Regions from separate parts of the Homo sapiens genome. Here all the other regions are reported to be linked to region 3. The links are microRNA targets in miRTarBase. Many come from high-throughput screens and were not tested one by one. Region 3 holds a microRNA gene; each other region holds the end of a gene's coding sequence.
The links. The annotated mature microRNA hsa-miR-5692c reads AAUAAUAUCACAGUAGGUGUAC and lies in region 3 at 2,956-2,977, opposite strand. An mRNA with a match to its seed (bases 2 to 7 or 8) in the 3' UTR can be bound and repressed. Matches are read on the target gene's strand: a 7mer-m8 pairs with bases 2 to 8, a 7mer-A1 pairs with bases 2 to 7 and ends in A, and an 8mer does both.

Region 1: miRTarBase lists PALS2 as a target of hsa-miR-5692c. Seed matches in the 3' UTR shown: 7mer-m8 at 2,578-2,584, 7mer-A1 at 2,570-2,576 and 7mer-A1 at 1,269-1,275.
Region 2: miRTarBase lists DDHD2 as a target of hsa-miR-5692c. Seed matches in the 3' UTR shown: 7mer-A1 at 1,274-1,280 and 7mer-m8 at 1,216-1,222.

Annotation. Positions count from the first base shown.
Region 1 is chr7:24,687,324-24,691,323 of GRCh38, reverse strand. PALS2 (protein associated with LIN7 2, MAGUK p55 family member) reads right to left here. Exons shown (of 12, transcript NM_001303037.2): 12 at 1-3,886. The coding sequence ends at 3,710. Among named protein-coding and RNA genes, the nearest start is that of GSDME, 68 kb to the left of the region's middle.
Region 2 is chr8:38,259,743-38,263,742 of GRCh38, reverse strand. It overlaps DDHD2 (DDHD domain containing 2), which reads right to left. Exons shown (of 18, transcript NM_015214.3): 17 at 3,596-3,703; 18 at 907-3,143. The coding sequence ends at 3,622. It overlaps PLPP5 (phospholipid phosphatase 5), which reads left to right. Exons shown (of 7, transcript NM_001102559.2): 7 at 1-613. Among named protein-coding and RNA genes, the nearest start is that of PLPP5, 7.5 kb to the left of the region's middle.
Region 3 is chr5:135,800,041-135,804,195 of GRCh38, forward strand. MIR5692C1 (microRNA 5692c-1) reads right to left here and starts at 3,035; the gene lies at 2,945-3,035. It also overlaps a transcript of SLC25A48 not described here.

The sequences.
Region 1 (4,000 bases), not on the chromosome of region 3:
ATTGCCTTTTTCATGTTTAGTTAAGGTTCATTACTACAAAATTATTGGCTCTCTAGCCTGTGATTTCTGGATAATGGAGTACTGTTTCAGAAGTTACAAAAGTAAAATTTAAGTAGATTATTATTTTGAGCAATTTTCAAAATTGTTATCTTTAGTTTGCCAATTCAAAATAATTTTACCTAACTCTATGGCTATCCACCTTGAAAATCAACTCCAGTCACTGGGATCATGACACTTGTTATACATAAAAATAAGTACCATTTAATAATTTTTAAACCAAGGATCATTTTTTATTGTCATTGGGATATTATGGTCAAAGCAGTTAGTATCTGGACATAATCTATAATGTCACATGGTTTTATTGCTAACTTGGGTTATTATCTAAATTTGCCTTAATAATCTATTTGTTGCTTTAAAGGAAACTTCTTAAGAACTACTATAAATTTATTGGATTCTAGAATCTAGGATTTAGGCTACTAATGCTGTAGGCATACTGGGTTTCTCTTATAATTTCTATTTCAGAAAGCTATGTTCAGCAATTGTATAGTTAGAGTTAGCCAAAATAAACAAAGTCCTGATGTATTTGACATGTGATATTACCAAATATCACACAGAAATGGAGACTGCATAATAAAGGCATGGCTGTAATGAAAGTGAAAATTCTACTTTTTAGGGCCATCACATTTATTTCACTAAGCTATGGTTAAATGACTTATCCAGGCACATCACCTCTATGGGTATTTGTACATTTGAAAATGAAAAAATATATATATAGTCTTAGGTTGTGTACAGTCATGCCCTGAGTGCTGAAATGTGGACACTGACCTATCCACAAGGAGCCCTCAGGCACATTAATACGTTGGCACATCATGTTTCCCAAAAGCACATGCATGTGTGTGTCTATTTCAACTCTTAACAATTGCTCAACACCACTCTAAACCATTTTCGCTTCCATAAAGCTAATTATCGCAGATCTTCCCAAAAGAGAAGTTCACATTTCCTTGATCACAGCTATACTCTCATTACCTAGGAAGAACCCTGGGACCTCTGGGGCTGTTTGCCCCCGCAGAGCACTGCTCATTCCTGCAGATTCATTTGGGACTTGGGTTTCAAGTTCAATGATTCTTCATTGAGATACAATGAACTTATCTAACTGTATTCTTGTTAGTACGGGCATCTAGACTGAAATGAACTAAACTGCATCATTTCATTTTATATTAGGAGAAATCTAATGTGCATTAATTAAGTAGTCAATCATGAATACCATTTATAATAGAAATAATTCCTTTAAGTATATTTTCTAAGTAATACATTTTATATCACATAAGGCTAATATACATGATGTAAAAGTCATCTATTGTACCAAGATGATTGAAATATTTTGCAGATAAACTTCTTGTGCTGCTATAATTATCCCAAAGCTGTTTAAAGAGGCTCCATGCTGCAGCATGAAAGTACATTAGAGAATACAGCACATTTCCTGAGTGAAGAACTGAAATTTCTCTTAAAATTTCAAGTGTGTGTTGAAACATTGTCATAGGGCATCACCTTGATACTGTGCTTTAATTCATGTTGCTTTGAGAAGCCAAGAATTTGGTGTAAACACATGTAGTTTGAAAGTTTCCACTGTTATTAAAATAGTATAATCCATTTTGTCACCAATTCCCTGTCCTAGGACAAGAAACGTGAATTTGTGTTCTGGCCATGAAATCTAGAATCAAAAAAAGAAAAAAAAAAAAAAAAAGAAAAACCTATAGATTTCCAACTTTAACAATATGACAACTTGGGTGTTTTGTTTTATTGTGAAAAAGATTTTAAACAATGTGTCAATACTGCCTATTGTCATATATTTTCTTTTCCTTCAAAGTCCTCCCAGCTGGCGTTCCAAATGACAACTTTGGTGAGGGAAAAAACAAATTCAGCAGCCAGGTGTCTGGCACCTAACACCAGACAAAGATGACCATCAATATTTAAACACCTAATCCTTTAAAGTGTGAATAATGTTTACATGAAAAGCTAGCAACAATACAGAATGTGGTTACCTTAATTTAATAATGAGCTGCATCTCTGAGTATGTTTTAGGAAGAATTTCTATTATCCAAGAATCCTAAAGGAAGATATTAACTGAGGTGAATGTGGGAATTTGTATAAGTCAATGCTTCTAAAGGAGAACTTCTTTCGGTAATCATTAAACAAAAAGTACACTTCTTGGCTAGGTGCAGTGGCTCATGCTTGTAATCTCAGCACTTTGGGAGGCCAAGGTGGGTGGATCACTTGAGGTCAGGAGCTCGAGACCACCCTGGCCAACATGGTGAAACCCCATCTGTACTAAAAATACAAAAATTAGCCGGACATGGTGGCACCCAACTGTAATCTCAATTACTTGGGAGGCTGAGGCACGAGAGTCGCATGAACCCAGGAGGCAGAGGTTGCAGCGGGCTGAGATCGCGCCACTGTACTCCAGCATGGGTGACAGAGAGAGACTCCATCTCAAAACAAACAAACAAAAAAACAAAGTACATTTTTTAACAGATATGTAAAAAATATACAAAACATTTTATATATATTATATAATACATAATATACATATTATATAATGTATATATTTTGTGTGTATGTATACAAAATAGCTGACAATTATTTCCCAATTTTTTAAGTTGTTCAATGGGTTTGGTTCTCAACACAACAGACAAAACAGGTACCCTAAGGATCACATCACATTTCTAAAAGCACAAAAACCTCCAACTGCAAACTTAGAGGCATCTCTAAACATCACTAAAATTTGCAGAGGCATGATACATTTGCTGACCATGTTCTAATAAAACCATTGTTTAAAGTAGTAGGTTCCTTTTGTCAGTCAAAATTTTACATGTGAAAATAAACTTTCTTCAAGTGTCATTTTGCTGTAAGGTTTTACAGGATAAGGCACTCTCTCAGTCTGCATGACCTTGCTTCCAGCCCCAGAGCTTACTGTGTACATGTTAAATTAGTTAGCATCATATCACTGCAACAAATAAAAAGAATAACCTCAAAAGAGAGTGCAAGGTATTGCTCTTCAATTTTTCAGTAAAGATAGAAATGAAGAGACAAAACTAATATAGCTGTATAAATTAGAATGGATAGCCATACATCTCCGAAATAATGAAAATACGTAAACTGATCAGACTTTTGATGTCAGATTTAGATGGTAGTAGACTAGCTATAACACTGACTTAAAATTCTGCTTTTGTAAGAAATTTATAAGAAGGAAGGTCAATAACTATATTTTCTTCTATTAAGACTAACCCTTCACTATTTGAATACTGAACTAAATGACAGCTTTACAAAACTATTTCAAGTAATATTCATTATCACAGTGAAAATATGAGACCAATGTTAGAGTGAATGATTTGAAAATTCCTTTGATGAAAAAGGCAAGGGTACTAAATCAAAACATATACAAAATGCTTCAACGCATTTCTTTATGTGATATGAATAGAAAGATTATCCATACAAAGTTAGAAAAATTAAGATAAATTATATATTAGTACACCTTCCAACCACATTTTATATAAAAATTCAGAAGTGTACTATTATTTCAATCTACACCATAAAAATGCCTGGACTTAGCAGATAATCTTCTATCTGTGATGTATTTTCTCAGTAGAAGGTTTATTTGTTGCAGTCACTTTTTAAGAGTTTAATTTTCATTGTTAACCTTACTGAATCATCAGTAAACCCAGCTGATTGGGACCCACTGTGGTTCCATTCTCAGTTTCTCTATGGCAGTTTGCAGTTTTTCAAAGGCTTTGTCTAGATTATCATTTATGATGATCAAATCAAAATAGTGGTTGTATGCTCTCTGAATCCGTGCACTTTCATCCACTGTTTTCTTCAAGTCAGAGTCCTGTTGAAGAGTTTTAAAAGGAAATGTTTGTATTACAATGCATATTTACTTGCTCAAACTCCAACTAGAAGTGAATATAATAAATAGGTTAGATATATTTCTGGTAATTCTGGT
Region 2 (4,000 bases), not on the chromosome of region 3:
GCTCAAAATCTTAAAATCTAGGGCATGGCCAACTAAATTACTTTGATTCTGTTTACCTTCTCTGATGACAATTCCATCAAGCCTTAAATAGGAAAATGTCGAATCTAGGGTAATTTATCACTTTTGTGTGCATCTTATCTGAGTCCAGCCATCTGGTACTGCTGTGCATTTTGAACACCGTGGGCATAAACAATTTGTTGAATTACTAAGTGAAAACAATAATAAAGAAGAAAATGGTCAGGAGTGTGGTTTCAGCACTACTAACAGATGACTGTTTCTACCTCATTTGACCATAACTGTACTTGTGAGCTTCTTTCCTTCCATTCATGACTGAAGATCTGCTCAAATGCACCAACACTGCCAAGTGACTAAGGTAGAAAAGAAAAATGACAGGTATCGTCATCTGAAGGACAGATGAATCTTTTTCTGCCCCTTCTTCACAATGGAATATAAGGAACAATTATGGGATGTCATCAGAATGGATGCCATAGGACCTACAGCTCCCTTTCTCTTTATTGTGATTATACTTTAAATATGACATTGTCTTTTATGTGTATGTTCCTATATTTTCAATGTATCTTTTTCCTTCAGTAAACCTGATATTCAAATAAAATGGTAAATGTGTGCTTTTTTAAATATTTAAAGTACATTAAGGGGCTGGAACTTTAGTAAAGCAAAACATTGAATTCCCCATCCGCCCTAAGTGATTCAACTGCTGTTATCTATAGTACTGGCTAATATTTATAAATACCAAAGGAAAGTCTCTTATAATTGCCATGCTTTAAATTCTGAACTTAAATTCTGCCTATGACAATTAAAATACCAGTCAACAGGAAAGAACTTACATATTAGTTCTTTGCCCAAAACCTATTTTTTTGTTTTAGTAATACATAAAGACAGAGAAAATCGTGACTGTACTGATTTTCTTGACTTTGAGACGGGTGAGTCCAGGTAAAAGTAGGCCACTAGTCAATATGGTTTCATGTTAGTATTTACTAAAGTTTTAAATATAATCACGTAGAAAACAAACATTTCAAAAATGCAAAATATTAGAAATCTAATCAGTGCTATTAATCTTTCCATGCAAACAATCTCTTTTGCTGAGATAAGTGATACTAGTTCTGCAGCTGGGAATATGTACAAAATGATGCTGTACCAGAGTTTAAAAATAGGGTTGGTCTAGAGATTGCACATGATACAAATGAAGCAGCGCAAATAATATATGACTAAATACAGGATTTCAATCAAGCTTATCATCCTGGGAATATACAGCTATAATACCATGAATAGACAAGATATAAAGCTCTTTCACAGTTACCCACCCCTCACCACTAGGAAAGAAACATTTCTTAATACAAAGAGTGGTTTATCTGGCTATCCAGGGCTATGCTGTCCATCTTTGGTTATAGGGACTCCCTCTGCTTATCCTTTGGTTTACTCTTAAATAGCACCTATTCTGCCAATAGGAAGAGTAAACATAAATTTGAAGACCACAACTTGGCAAAAGCTTCCCCTTAATATACAGTGAATACTTAATTCTCAATAACTCAGAGTTTATATACCTTTAAAAAAATAAAGTATTCCATATATCTGAAACTTAGTGGCATACTTAGCACTAGACTATAAGCAGATGACAAAGAAAGGCCAGGCCTGACCTATACCCCAACCTTACCTCTACAATCTCCATGGTGACAGTAATTACCCTTCATTTTCCTTTTCTTTCCAGAAAGGGATAAAGACCACTGCTGTCTAAGGAATGGCTTCAGTAAATATTAAATGTCAGTGGCTTTGAATACCATAACATTTATAAAAAAATTTATAAACAATAAACCACAGCTCGCCTGCCTTTGCCACTCTATAAACAGAGGCCTGTGGAATCTGAGAGCAAGTATAAAGGATTATCATAAAGAGAACTACAAAGACAATGACAAACTGACCAATGAAGAAGAAAAATCTACAGCAAAGTAGTGAAAAGATGCCTTGACAAAATTAGTGTGCAGTCACTTGTGTTCTTAGAAGTAAACCTCACTTCATATGTTCCAGACTCAGCTGACACTGACTCTGGAATAGCTGTTTCTTGGACCCTACAGACATAAGTTTTTCTTTCAGAACAAGTTAAACATTTCCCCCTAGCCAAACCTACCTGCTCAACCAATGCTGCCCGTGCCAAGAGCCTTTTAAATATGCTTTGTGGATTATGGATACCTAAGAAGGAAAGAGGATACACAATACTACCTTAGCTCAAGTAGAAATGGCAGGTGACAAATTCTGTTTCACCATAAAGGCACCACTAAAAGGTTTTATTTAGAACCTCAGCAGCCTGTAGAGGCTACACAATTTCAGGTTCATCAGCTTTTACAACTATTTTCAACGTAAGAATAGAAGCTATTAGCAAATAACTTCTATCAAATATAAAAGGGAGGCCTAGGATATACAACATCTTTGCTTTATAAAGATGCACCTAACATGAACTAACTTGTCAACTTTAGACTCTTACAGCAGCTCAAACAGTTGCAAAAACAATGAACATCAGTGATTTCTGGCAATAAGTCTGTCAGTTCTAAGAGAGTAAACAACACTTTTTTAAAGCTACATTCTAGTCTTTCTTCATACACTACACATAAGAAAGAAATGCAGGTTCAAAAATAAATCACCCAAAAGTCTTTTCCATGTCCACTGAGACTTAGCCTTCAGTTCAACACAAACAAGAGATAAGTGTACTCCAAAATGCCTTCTGAATCTCAAGAATCTGTTTCCAAACTAGAACATTTTCTAAAGATAAGCAATAAGTTCCTTAAAAACATGTCTACCCCACCCAAAACAAATCAAACCCAAAATAGGCTTTACACCCTGTCAAGTACTAATCAATAAAGTGTGGCAACTATAAACTATCATCAAAGAATTAAAGACACAAACCACCCCCAGCTATGCAGAAAAAAATGGCAAGTGTTTATATGAAGCCAGTGGTTAAAAGTAATAGGGCCTTTTGCTTTTCCATTCATTTCCAAAGAGGAAGATTATCTTCCAAAGACCCCAGTGGTGAGTAAGTGGCAGGCAACATGCAGGAAATGACGCAGCTGAGGAGAGGAAAATTGCAGCAACAAACAGGTGGATTTTCTGGGGAAGGATCCCTCAATGTCCGTCTAGGGAAGAAAGTGGGAGAAGAGCTGCAGTCACAACTGGAAGGCAACCACAGAGAATGCCAGAGTCGAATACACAGACTTTGTAATTTCACATCTAAAAGGCTGAGTAATTTAAATCTCAGGATGGGTGGTTGGTAATTAAAATCATAACTGTTGCCACAGTAACTCTTAGATAACAGAACCATTAAAACTCTGAGTTTAGATCCTAAAAAATGACAGGTGTCATTGGACAAAATCTCTAGCAAAACAGACATACACTAATCTTCCTCTAAATGGGCTACTGTGTTTTTTTCCCCATGAATTTCTACCAGTCCCTCTAAAAATGAATAGCAGCCTAGATCTTGGTGACAGGCAACAGCTAGTATATTTAAAAAGAGCTTGAGGCTCCATAGTTCATTATAACATGTTAATATGTAAGAATTACACTATATATATGACATTTTAAAACTTACATTAAGCAGCCATAGATGGGTCATTTTTACTGTAAAGGCTGATCAAGGAAGATACCCTGGGTTTGGTAGATCTCTTTGAGGACGAGCAATACTGTATCTTCAGACTCCCTATAAAGAGAAAAAATTATGTTGAGAAAAGGAACTAACACTTGTGCCAAATGTTTTACATATATTATCTCATTTAATCCATACAACCATCTTGCAAGTTTATTTTTTACTTCTGCAAAGAAATGAGATTCAGAAGTAATGTAATTGGCAGTGGTTTGGAAGGTGACCTGGCAAAGAACTCTGGCATTAAGTCTAGTAATATAAAAAAGCTAGGAAGAGAGGCCAGGTGCGGTGGCTCATGCCTGTAATCCTAACACTCTGGGAGGCTGAGGTGGACAAGTCACTACAGGTCTGGAA
Region 3 (4,155 bases):
TTACTCCCAATATTGCAGGAACTGTACACCCCCCTGGTGATATTGTTTCTAATACCCAGGTGGAAAAACGATTATATTACTCCCAATATCCCAGGGGCTGTACAACCCGCCTGTGATATTGCTTTTAATGTCCAGTGGGGGATAGAACTCTATTACTATCAATATCACTGGGAGAGTACACCCCGCCCAGTGATATTCTTCCTAATATCCAGAAAAGGAGAGTTTGATGTTAGTCCAAATATAGCAAAGGGTGTACAGCCCGCTTGTGGTATTGTTCTTAATATTTAGGGAGCAGAAGATAATATTATTCCCAATATCGAAGGGGGTGTTCACCATTTCTGTAATATTGTTCCTAATATCCAGAAGCTAAGCAGATGATATTACTTTCAATATCACAGAAAATGTCCACACCCCCTTGTGATATTGTTCCTAATATGCAGGGGAAGAGAGGATGACATGAGTTTCAACATCGCAGGGGGTGTACACCCCGCCTGTAGTATAATTCCTATATCCAGAGGAAGAGGGAGGATGAAGTTATGCCCAATATCGCAGTGGCTGTACACCCACCCTCCCGGGTGATGTTGTTTCTAATATCCAGAGGGGAGAATATATTACTTCCAATATCGTAAACACCTTGAGTGTACACCCCCCTGGGATAGGGTTTGTAATATTTAGGAGGGGAGAGGGTGATACTACTCCTGATATCACGGGGTGTGTACACTCTGCTGTGAAATGGTTTGTAAGATCCGGTGGGGAGTGGATGATAATACACCCCATATCGCTGGGGAGTGTACACTCGCCTGTGATATGGTTCGTAACATCCAGAGGGGGAGAGGATGATATCACTCCCCATATCGCAGGGGCGTGTACACCCCTCTGTGATATGGTTCATAACACTCAGGGGAGGAGAGGGTTATAACACTCCCCATATCTTTGGGGTTGTACAACTCCCAATATCGCAGGGTGTGTACACCCTTCTGTGATATTTTTCATAATATCTAGGCGGGAAGAGGACGATATTACTCCCAATATCTCAGGGGTTGTAAACCCCCCTGTGATGTTGTTTGTAATATCCAGGGAAGGAAGATGATGATATTACTCCCAATATCACAGAAGGTGTATACCCTCTGTGATATTGTTTGTAATATCCAGGGTGGTAGGGGATGATATTACTCCCAATATCACAAGGGGTGTACACCCCCTGTGATATTGTTTGTAATATCCGGAAGGGTAGGGAATGATATTACTTCCAATATCGCAGGGGGTGTATACTCCCCTGTGATATTCTTCAAAATATCTAGAAAAAAAAGGGGATGATATCACTCTCAATATCGTAGGGGGTGTACTCCTTCCTGTGATATTGTTCATAGGAGGTGTACGTCTGCTTGTGATATTGTTGGTAATATCTAGGGGGCGAGAGGATGATATTACTCCCAATATCACAGGGTGTGTAAACCCCCTGTGATGTTGTTAATAATATTCAGTGGGGGAAGAAGATGATATTACTTCTTCTTATTAGACAAAGGGATGATATTACCTCCAATATCGCAGAAGGTGTACACCCTCTGTTACATTTTTCATAATATCCAGGAGGGGAGGAGATGATATTACCCTCAATATCACAGTGGGAATACACTCCCTATAATAAGGTTTGTAATATTAGAAGGAGAGGGGATGATATTACATCCAATATCACAGGGTGTGTGCACCCCGCAGTGATATTGTACGTAATATGCAGGGAGAAAGGGAATAATATTAGTCCCAATACTGCAGAGGGTGTACATTCCTCTATCATATTGTTCGTATTATCCGGGGGGCGGGGATGATATTACTCGCAATATTGCAAGAAGTGTACACCCTCTCTGATACTTTTCATAATATTTAGGGAAAGAGGGGATGATATTACTCCCAATATTGCAGTGGGTGTACACCCCAATGTTATATTGTTCATAATATCCAGAAGGAGATAAGATGCTATTACACCCAGTATTGCAGGGAATGTACAAACCCCTGTTACATTGCAAGGGTTGTACACTCCCCTGTTCATAATATCCAGGGGAAGAGAAGATATTACTCCCAATACCCTCATATCCTACGGAGATATTACTCCTAATATCACAGTGGGTTTACATCATATGACTACACCCTGTTATACTATTCATTATATCATAGGGAGATATTTCTCCTAGTATCACAATGGGTGTACACCATGCATGTATACCCTGTGATATTATCTGTAATATCCTAGGAAGATATTACTCCTACTATCACAGTGGGTATACACCATGTGTGTAGACCCTATGATATTATTTGTAATATCCTGGAAAAATATTACTCCTATTAACACTGTGAATGTACACCATGTGCATATACCTTGTGATATTATTTATAATATCCTAGGGAGGTATTACTCCTACTATCACAGTGGGTGTACACCATATATGTACACTTTTTGACATTATTTCTAGTATCCTTGGAAGATATCACTCTTAGTATGACAGTGGGGGGTACACCATGTGTGTACACCCTGTGATATTATTCACAATATCCTAGGGAGATATTGTGAATATCACAGTAGGGGTACACCATGTGTGTTCACCCTGTGATATTATTCATAATATCCTAGAGAGATACTACTCCTAGTATCACAGTGAGAATACAGAATCTGTGTACATTCAGTGAAATTATTTATAATATCCCAGGGAGATATTAATCCTAGTATCACAGGGAAGGTACACAATGTAAGTACACCCTGTGATATTATTTGTAATATCCTAGGGAAATATTACTCCTAGTATCACAGTAGGGGTACACCATGTTTGTACACCCTGTGATATTATTTGTAATATTCTAGGGAGATATTACTCCTAATATCACAGTGAGTGTGCACCTTGTGATATTCATAATATCCTAGAAAGATATTACTTCTAATATCACAGTAGGGTACAACATTGTGTACACCTACTGTGATATTATTCATAATAACCTAGAGAGCTATTACTCTTAATATCACAGTGGGTATATACAATGTTATATAATTAGTAATATCCTATGGAGGTATTACTCTTAATATCACAGTGGGTGTACACCTTGTGTGTACATCCATTGATGTTATTCATAATATTCTAGGGAGATATTACGTGTAATATCACAGTGGGTGCACTCTGTATGATGTTATTTATAATATACTTGGCAGATGTTATTTATAATATTCTTGGCAGATATTATTCCTAATATCACAGTGGGTGTACACCTTGTGAGTACAATCTGTGATATTATTCATAATATTCCAGGGATATATTAATCCTAATATCACAGTAGGTGTACACTCTGTGATACTATTCATAATATTCTAGGGATATATTACTCCTAATATCACTGTGGGTGTACACCCTGTGATATTATTTTTAATATTCTAAGGAGATATTACTCCTAATATCATAGTTGGTGTGCACCCTGTGATAATATTCATAATATTTTAGTGATAATATTTTTTAATATCACAGTCAGTGTACACCCTGTGATATTATTTGTAATATTCTAGGGAGATATTACTCCTAATATTACAGTGGGTGTACACCCTGTGATATTATTTGTAATATCCTAGGGAGATATTACACCTAATATCAAAGTGTTGTGATATTAAGTGTAATATCTCCCTAGGATATTATGAATCATATCAAAGGGTGTACAGGCACTGTAATAGGATATCGCCCTGTGTGTATACCCACTCCGATATTATATGTAATATTCTAAGGAGATATTACTCCTCATATAACAGTGAGTGCACATCTTGTGTATACCTTGTACACTCACTGTCTACACCCTCTGTGATATTAGGAGTATTATCTTCATAGGATATTATGAATAACCTCACAGTGAGTGCACACGCTGTGTGTACACCCACTGTGTTCTTAATATTCTAGGAAGATACTACTCTTAGGAAGATGTCACAGGATGTCTACACATGCTGTACATTTTCTGTGATATTAGGAATCATATCTCCCTAAAATATTACAAATAATGTCACATGATCTCCACACATGATGTACACCCCCTTTGACATTAAGAGTACTATCTCCCTATGATATTATGAATGATGTCACAGAAGGTGTCCACAGACAGGGTACACCTTCTGTGACATAGAAGTAATAT